2 separate regions of the Homo sapiens genome follow, and region 2 is linked to region 1. The links come from fine-mapping of genetic effects on gene expression. A gene starts in region 1. The other region holds a variant in brackets. All regions are shown on one strand. Distances are between the middles of the regions.

Region 1 (4,398 bases):
CTGGGCCAAATTTAAGGGAAAAATGTCTTGAGCAGAGTAGCTTGGAGCATTCTCATACCTTGACTCTTACTTAAAGAAAGGAAGAAGAAACTTTGGGGCTTTGATTTGGTTTGAAAAGGAGGAAGGGAGGTGATATTGAGCACTTATTTTGAGCACTTATTTTGTACCAAGTGCATAGCAGGTGGTCTATTTTGTTTCATTCTCTCAAGAATAGTCCCTGTGAGGTGGACTGTTTATTATCACCTCCATCTTGCAGATGAGAAAGTGGAGACTCTAAGCTGATAAAACCCTTTCTTGAGGTCATACAGAGCCAAGATTAAAATATTAACAAAAAATAAAATTCTAGAGCCCCTCCAAGCATCTGAATGGACCCCTTCTTGGCCAGGGCACTCCAAAGTTAACCTGAAAAACTGGTTCAGGCCATGACGGGAAGGGGTGTCAGACATGTCTCGTTATACCCTACTCTCTTTAGGAATTCAGGAAACGTGGCCAGCATTTAACATCAACACAGACCTTAAGTCTGATAAGAAACATTTACATTCTATTCTCTCTGAAGCCTGCTACCTGGAGGCTTCATCTGCGTGATAAAACCTTGGTTTCCACAACTTCTTATTGTAACCGAGACATTTCTTTCTAGAGATAGTAACTCTTTCAACCAATTGACAAATCAGACAAATTTTAAATCTACCTACAACTGGAAGCAGACCTCCCCACTTTCCCTTTTCTGGACTGAAACAATGTATGTCTTAAATGTATTTAATTGAAGTCTCACGTCTCCCTAAAATGTATACATCTAGGTGACGCCCCAATCACCTTGGGGTCATGTTCTCAGGATCTCCTGAAGGTTATGTCATGGGCCATTAGTGACTCATATTTGGCTCAGAATAAATCTCTTTAAATATTTTAGAGTCTGACTCTTTTTGTCAACAAAAATCACATCTCTGTCTGACATTGTCGTGATTTGGGTTCTTTCAAAAGCAGATCCTGAGACAAGGGTTTGAGTGCAAGTGGGACTTTGGAGGTGTATTTATCTTTTTAAAAAATTTTTTTTTGTGCCTCTCAGCTCTGAATGGACCCTTTATTAATTTATGCTCTGGGACTAACGAAGGCGTGCCTTTGAGCCCGTCTCCTTTAAGTGCGCGCGATGCTAGGCTTCCTCAGTAGAGGGCGCCGGAGGACACCGCAGCTGGAGGAGGGTTTCCGCCGGTTGTGCGGGGACCGCGGCTCAGTAGTGTGGGTGGACGAGGACAGCGGGTGGAACTGGTCCTTCTGTGACTTTGCAGCCCCGGCTTGGTGATAATTTTTGTGCAGGCTTCTTGACATGGAAAGCAGAGCTCCCCAGCACAGAGTGAGCCTCCGAAGGGCTCCTGCCCTTACCGGTGCCCTACCCTCCCTTTCCCTGCTTGCTACACTTGGGTCCGGGACTCAGCCTCCCTTTGCAAGCTTCTGCTCGGCCTGTGTGCAGCTGCACTTAGCTGGCAGGGTCAGGCGTTGAGTAGCCGCTCCGCTCCTTCTGCAGCCTCCTGCAGCCCCCGCCAGCTCCCGGGCTCCATCCCTCACCATCAGTTGCTGATTGGCGCCCCCTGCGTGCACAACGGAGGCTGGCTGCACCTGGAGGTTCCCAGCAATTCCAGGCCGGCTCCAGCCTAGCCAAAGCAGCTAACTTCTCTGCTGTCTCGTGGGCTGAACCTCACCGTTTCCCAAGAGGTCTGAATCCTTCTCAAGTTCGTCTTTTCCTAAGTTCTCCCTCGTAGCTCTAGGTTGCTTTGTAGAGTTTCCTTATATCTATACTCTTCATTGTAGTTAATGACTCTGTGTTACACTTGTCCTGTTGAACTTACTGTGTAGTTTCTGTCTCTTGACTGGATCAAGGCTCTCACAGGAGTCAATCCCAGAAAAATGATGAGACAGTAGGGAAGAGAGAAAAGCCAATAAACAGCATGTTAATGAGTAGGTCCCACCTGGGGCTCAGTCGCACTGGTGTCCCTCTGAGAGTATGGGCACCACACACTTTGGCATTGCCCCAGCAAGGCAAGGGGCAAGCAAGGGAGCTGGGTGTTTATCTCCCAGGCATTGCTTGAGGCTTGCTCTTGGGAATGGTAGCTCCCTGGAACTTCTGTCCAGCCTGCATATCTGGACTGTGCAGGGGATACTTCTATGGCCAGAAAAAGCCCTTGGGCAGAGAGAAGCAGGTTCTTGATGCTGAGATGTCTGCGTGCTTGGGAGTTGACCACTGCAGCTGCAGGTGACCTCTGGGGTGGGCCAAGGGGATGTAGGTGGGCAGTGATACATCTGCTACAGACATGTTGCAGGATGCAGGGCAGCAGAAGGAAACTGATCAGCTGGCTGCCAATGAATGGCCCAGACTGATTCAAGGGTAAATTTGCTGGAAGAAGTCCGTTGCAGAAGATCAGATGCTTTCCTGACTGGTGTAATTTAATTGTATGGTCAGTGTTTGCTATGGATAATTGGATTTTTCTTTGACCTTCACAATCTTGCTGGCTCTCTGTCCACACTGAAAGACACTTTTCTAACTCTCTCAAATGCAATAAGACTAACCTTGGCTTCCATCAGGAACTCATGGGCTTGCCATTTCCAGGAGGTGCCGATGGCTGTGGTATCCAACCAGCAAACGGCAGTGGTGTTTGTATTTTCCATTTTGCCCTTTACAAGAACATTTCAGCTGAAGCAAAAGGCTTTTTCCTTTACCCTGGGTTTTTTAATAGAAATCTTGGTGGCATTAAGCACTTTTAATTCTGAGCACTAGCCTGTAAAGTTCAAAGCTCTGTTCTGCTCTTGAACACAGCGGATACCAAGGCGAGAGATTCTAATCACAAGGAATACCAGAAAAAAAAAAATAAGCAGGAGACAAGTTTATTACGAAGGGTTGTGAACAGTATTTGTGATTAATGTGGAATGAAAAAGGTTATTTCTACATTAAAATCATTCACATTTGCAATAATTTAAACAATTTATCTGGTTTCCCCAAGTGGGGATGTGTTCTTTCCACATATAACATGCTCAGTGAAGGAAGAACAAGGAAGGTTACGCTGCCCTGAAACATATCTGGGAGAGCTTTTCGGCTCTGGGAGGATCACCAAGTTATGTTGTTAAGTGACAAAAACAATATCCGGAAGAGTGTCAAACAGCTAATTATTGTGTAAGAAGGAAAAAAAGAAGACTACATTAGTCACATTTACTTATATTTATATGAAAAGCTAATAAAAGTAGCTAGGTATACGTAAGGCAGTCAGAAACAAGACTTTTCAATTATAACTTTTATATCATTTTAATTTAAAAGTTACGCTAATATATTTCCTGTTCAAGAAACAAATAACAACATGCCCAGTGGAAAGCATCATCATTGTAATAATGTCCTAAGATCATTTTTTATGACCTTTGAAGGTAACTTAGGATAGGAAAATGCATTCCATAAAATTCAGCTGCCTGCACATAGTGAATCCTTTGCAAACCCTCGGAATAGGCTGAGGGTTTTTATATGACCATGGAATTTTTTTTTTTTTTTTTGCATCTTTGCTGCTATTCGCCATCCAGGCAGCAGGGGGAGGTGTTTCTCTGTTTTTCTTTGCGCCGCCCACGCCTTCTCCCCAACTTCATATGCAAAACTGACCAAGAATTCTCTAATTCAAATCTATGCACGAAAGGCACCACATTTTCTAGATTCATGTTGTTACTCTCTCATATCCCAAATCTGGGAGACTTGGAGCTTCCAGCAGGCTGCTAATGATTTTTCAAAAGGGGCCGATTGTTGGATTTGCTGGTGTAAAGTTTGTCCTCCCTCTTCTCTGTGCCCCTCCTTGTCACTCCACTCAGCCTTTATACATCACTTGCCATAATCGAGTCATAGAAAACGAAACTTACATTATGGAAATTCACAGCCTTTTTTTTTTTTCCACTTTGTAGATGAGACTCAGGATTTAGAAGGCAAAACAAACAAACAACCAAACAAATAAAAAAGGGATTTATTTTGGACCTTCATAAATGGTGCCAAAGTAAAAACAAACAAACAAAAGGTAAAAGAGGAAGGGACTGTTAGATGAATGTTTATCTCGGCGCCTGGTACCATACCTGCCTTACACACTCACAACGCAAGGAAGGGTGTGTCACCAGAGCCATTTTGCTAAGGAGGAGATTAAAGCTCAGAGGGGCTGAGCAACTTGCCCAAATTTATGTTGCTAGAAAATGATAGAACTGGAATTGGAAGCCAGACTGTATCTAAAGTAGAAACGTTTAAATATTTTCTTCCTATACCACACAAAATAAGCAGAAGGCAGTGTCTCTCTCTCTTTTGTCCCTGTCTGCCCCCCACAGTCTCTGTACCTGTTTTCCCACAAGGGTGTACCACCTGCTCCCTACTCCACATCGCGTCTATAAAGA
Region 2 (4,398 bases), 58 kb after region 1:
GAAAAACGGACCACAGGGGAGCCAGCACCTCTTTTTGCATCTTGCTTGCATTGTTGTAGTAAGTGAATAAATGCTTAGTTGTTACTTTCAGTTTGGCTCATTGTCCTAATTGACCACCTGGACACCTGGCAACTAGACAATTTTAAATTCATCCCTCTGGGTTCTTCTAAACATTATCATGCATAATTATCCAGACTGGCAAGGAGCAGAGAAGCATGGCTGAGAGTGGAACTCAAATGTCAGTGTAGGATTTTCAACGCCAGCTGTCCGTTTAAAAGAAACTGATGCTCACGTCTCATCCCAGACTATTTATAGGAAAATTTTTGTGGACGGAGCTCAGGCATGAGCTCCAGGTGACCTAAGATGAGCCAAAATTGTGAACATTGCATTAACAGGCATCAGAATCCTAATCCTGGAAATTAGTAGCACAGATTTCTAAGCTCTCTTTGATCTGTTGGATGAGAATAATCTAGGAGTAGGGCCTGGGAAACCGGGGAATTCAGGCGATTTTGACACAGGTGGTGATTAATTTGAGGAAGATGGAAAAATATTGGTCCAGTGTATGAGTGTGTGTGTGTGTGTGTGTGTGTGTACTCTCTCGATGGAGAGAAAGAATCATGGAGAAAGGGAATAAAAAACCTCAGAATCCAAGGAATAACCTAAAAAAGAACTTTATATTCATCCACTCATCCATCTATCCAGGTTGGTGGCAATGTGGCACAGCCACAGCCGTTAAAAGCATAGAATGGTTCTGTCATGTTGGGCAAATTATGTAACCTCTTTCAACCTCAGTTTCATCATCTGAAAATTGGGAACACACATAATATCCCCTTGCAGGTTATTATGATGTTTAAATAAATTATGCTTGTAAAGTATTTAACATAGCATCTAGAACTGCACTGTCTAATACAGTAGTCACTAGTTGTGTGTGGCTGCTGGGCACTGAAAATGTGGCTAGTTTGAATTGGGATGTGCTATAAATATAAAATCCACACTGAATTTTTAAATCTTAGGATAAAAATGCAAAATGTCTTATTAATAATTTTAAAATATTAAAATTATAATTTGACTATATTGTATTGAAATAATATTTTAGGAATATTAGGTTAAATAAAATATATTGTTAACATTAGCTTTATTGGTTTCTTTTTACTGTTTTACAAATGAGGCTACCAGAATATTTGAAAATAACAGATGTGGCTCGTATTTTATTTCTACTGGGCAGTGTTGACCTAGAACATAGCAAACTCTCAGTGACTGTTAGCATGTTGTTATTGGTATTATTTAATTCAAAAGCACTTAGTGAACACTTGCTATGAAGGATATAAACATCAGTCATTGATTAGCTAGTGTATCTTCCATTGAGGTAGTTAAAGTCTTGTTAAGGCAAAAGAAGTAACCAAGAATATTTGGGATTTGATTCATCTTAGAACTGTGGTGTGTGCCTGGCATAGTCCACATTTCCACAACAAATGCAAGATGAAATGCTACCAGAATTATTAATGAGACATTACAAATTGGGGTGATTAACTCAGGTACCTTAAAGCATATGCGGTGTCTGGTGACAAGAAGGTGTCTCAGAGAGGACGCTGGAGCTGAAGAACTTCATCAGACCTATAAAACAGTATTTGACAAATTAGATTCTAATACATATCATGTAGCCCATCATCTCTCCCTTTCCTGCCATTATAAAGAAAGGAATCAACACTTCTTGGAATATTGGGTCAAATATTTCCCCCTAAAATTCATGTCTACCTGGAACCTCAAAAATGACCTTACTTGGAAATAAGGTCCTTGGAGATGTAATAATTTAATAGAAAGTCATATTTGGTTAGGATGGGCTCTAATCCTATGATGGTGTCCTTTTAAGAAGAGAAAACAGAGACAGACATACAAGAGAACACATGTGAAGATGCAGGCAGGGATTGGAGTCATGCAGCTATAAGCAGATTATTGGCAACCACCAGAAGCTGGAAGAGGCAAGGAAGGATTCTTCTCTAGAGCTTTTGGAGGGAGCTTGGACCTGCTGACATCTTGAATTTGGACTTCTAGCCTTCAGAACTGTGAGAGAATAAATTTGTATTATTTCAAGCCACCCAGTTTGTGGAAATTTGTTATGACAGCCCAAGGGTATGGATATATTGAATATTTACTTAAGCCAGGTTTTGCTTTCTTAATTCTTTAGGAGACAAATATTAACTTCTTTGGTTTTCTGGGATTCACTTGTGGTTCTAGGGAGAATGTGGATCCAGGGAGACATGAAGGTCTTGGCAAAGGCAGAAACAGAGTCTAAGAGAAACCAAGGCATATCAAAACAATATAGCCAGATGGAGTCTCCAAAATGAGGATGAAGGGGCAAGCTAAAGGTCAAAGTTAGAAAACAGTGCCCAGAACTGGTTTAAAGTGAAGTCATGAAAGGAAGAGAAATGGTGGATTAGAAATGGATTAAATTGTGGATAGACTGGCAAGCAGAGAGTAAGATGGGTCCGGATGAAGAG[A/T]CTGGGAATATGGCTGATATCAGTATGGGATGGGTGAAGCCCCATGTCTGTGTTGTGCCAGCTGTGTGGCAGAGTGACATCTTTACATAAACTTGAAGTTATTGTTCCTTACACTAAGATATGGCTACATCTGGACACATGGTGATTGACAGGAGTTATATAAACCTATAGCACAAGGGTGGTGCATCTTCTTCTATCATCATAATACAAAAACAAACACATGTTTAGAAGTATAATATACAACTTTCCTGAATGCTAATCTAAAACATGAGATTATGAAAGTTTTTCTTTTGTGGCATTCACTTCAGGCTTTTAGCATTTCCCAGCAGTACACAGCCACTTTCATGTGCTCTCATGGCCATCTCCACTGCTGGAAAGTTGGAGAATCACTGAAGGAAAAGGCTTGTAAAGAACTGGACAATATTCCCATCATTTCTAAGATATGTCCCTTGCCCTAAGCCTGCATATTTAGGCACTCATTAGACATTTGGTAGTTCTTTTGTGAGAGTGAAAGTCCAAAAAAAGTGATGCATTTCTTTGGGTCTGCACCTTGGCCCGTGTGTTTATAAACAAAGAAAACTCATATAGGGAGGGTGTTTTCAGGAGTGCTAGGGGGCTGTGCATAGTAAGAAGTGCTTGATGATTCTCAAACTTGCAGACACTTCGGGCATATCAAGGCAAGAAGAACTTAAACCCAGTGCAAATATGAAAACTTTACCTTTATCTAGACAAGGCTTTCTAACTAAGAAATGCATGGTATTTAAATAGCCTGAAATTACAGTGGGTTTTCTTGTGTAGATTCATCTGGTTCAAGTTAGGTGTCTGTAACTTTTCTGCTACAAACCTATGTTCATATTTATATTACTCTTCTTTTAGTTAATTATATGTAGGTGTGTACTATTTTATCCTCTGGATCATCAAGGACAAATGGAACCTTTTTGAGGCTGGTTTCCTCTGCAGATTTAGAGCGATTGCTTGTTCCTGACGTGCTAAGCATTGGGAAGATGAGGAAGTTCATGGACATGCCCAGTTGCCAAAAGTGGAACCTGGGAGTCATCCTGGAATTTTTTCCTCTTCCTTGTGGCATCTCATCCATTACCAAGTCCTAAAATCTGCATCTGGAGAGCTCTCAAATCCACCCAACTTCTCTTTGTCCTTTTGCCTAGGTAAGAGTAGAGTCTAATCCTACACAGGAATGAACGTAGGGGTAGAAAAGAGTTAAAGATTCTAGAATTTGCTTATAAAGTGAAAATCATTTATAGTTAAAATTACCCTTGGGAGAAAAACATGGGGAAACCATTCCTTAAATTATACTTAGATTACCTGGGCCCTCTATAAATAAAAGCTGCCACATAAACTGTTATTTCTCTTGCTTTTCCAGCTGAGGCCATCCTTTATCTAATAGGACTAAAGGCTGTTTTGGACAGGGGGATGGATGATAAGGTAAATGAGGAAATTTCTCTGTTTATTTCATTTTATTTTAGTTAAACAATTATAAATGAATGGATGTTATGGCACTGGGTTGCATTTGGCTGGACAGTCATCAGCTGTTTCAGGCAGACCTTGCTAACCCAGTTAATAAATCCTATTAACCAAACAGGATTTATTCTTGCTGCAGCTTCATTTCTGCCACAAAGTGTTGTCTGGGGCAGTAATGTAAAAGAAAGCCAATGTTAGACTCAGCTGGTTAGAAACACAACAAAGCAGAATGTGGGTCTTCTGGGAAAGAAAGTGGATGGGATTGTTGAGAAAGGGAGACCTGGTCTTCTCCAGTCCCAGGAGGCTGCCAAACGCTCATTCCCAAGGGCGAAGTCTTGGATTTTCCCTTTTTTTCTCTCACAAAGTAACCACCTGTGGGAAATTCTCCTGCTTATCTTATTTTTCTTGCCCAGCATTCTAG

What was found. PIP is the estimated chance that this variant, and not a neighbour inherited with it, causes the effect.
Region 2: its variant is the best candidate, but not a certain one, in a credible set for the expression of LINC01182 in atrial appendage (GTEx, PIP 0.82).

Annotation. Positions count from the first base shown.
Region 1 is chr4:13,653,107-13,657,504 of GRCh38, forward strand. LINC01182 (long intergenic non-protein coding RNA 1182) reads left to right here and starts at 2,073. Exons shown (of 4, transcript NR_121681.1): 1 at 2,073-2,245. RefSeq lists an enhancer at 1,598-1,647.
Region 2 is chr4:13,711,464-13,715,861 of GRCh38, forward strand. The region is part of intron 2 of LINC01182 (long intergenic non-protein coding RNA 1182); the gene reads left to right. Among named protein-coding and RNA genes, the nearest start is that of LINC01182, 58 kb to the left of the region's middle. The variant A/T (reference allele first, on the strand shown) is at 2,499.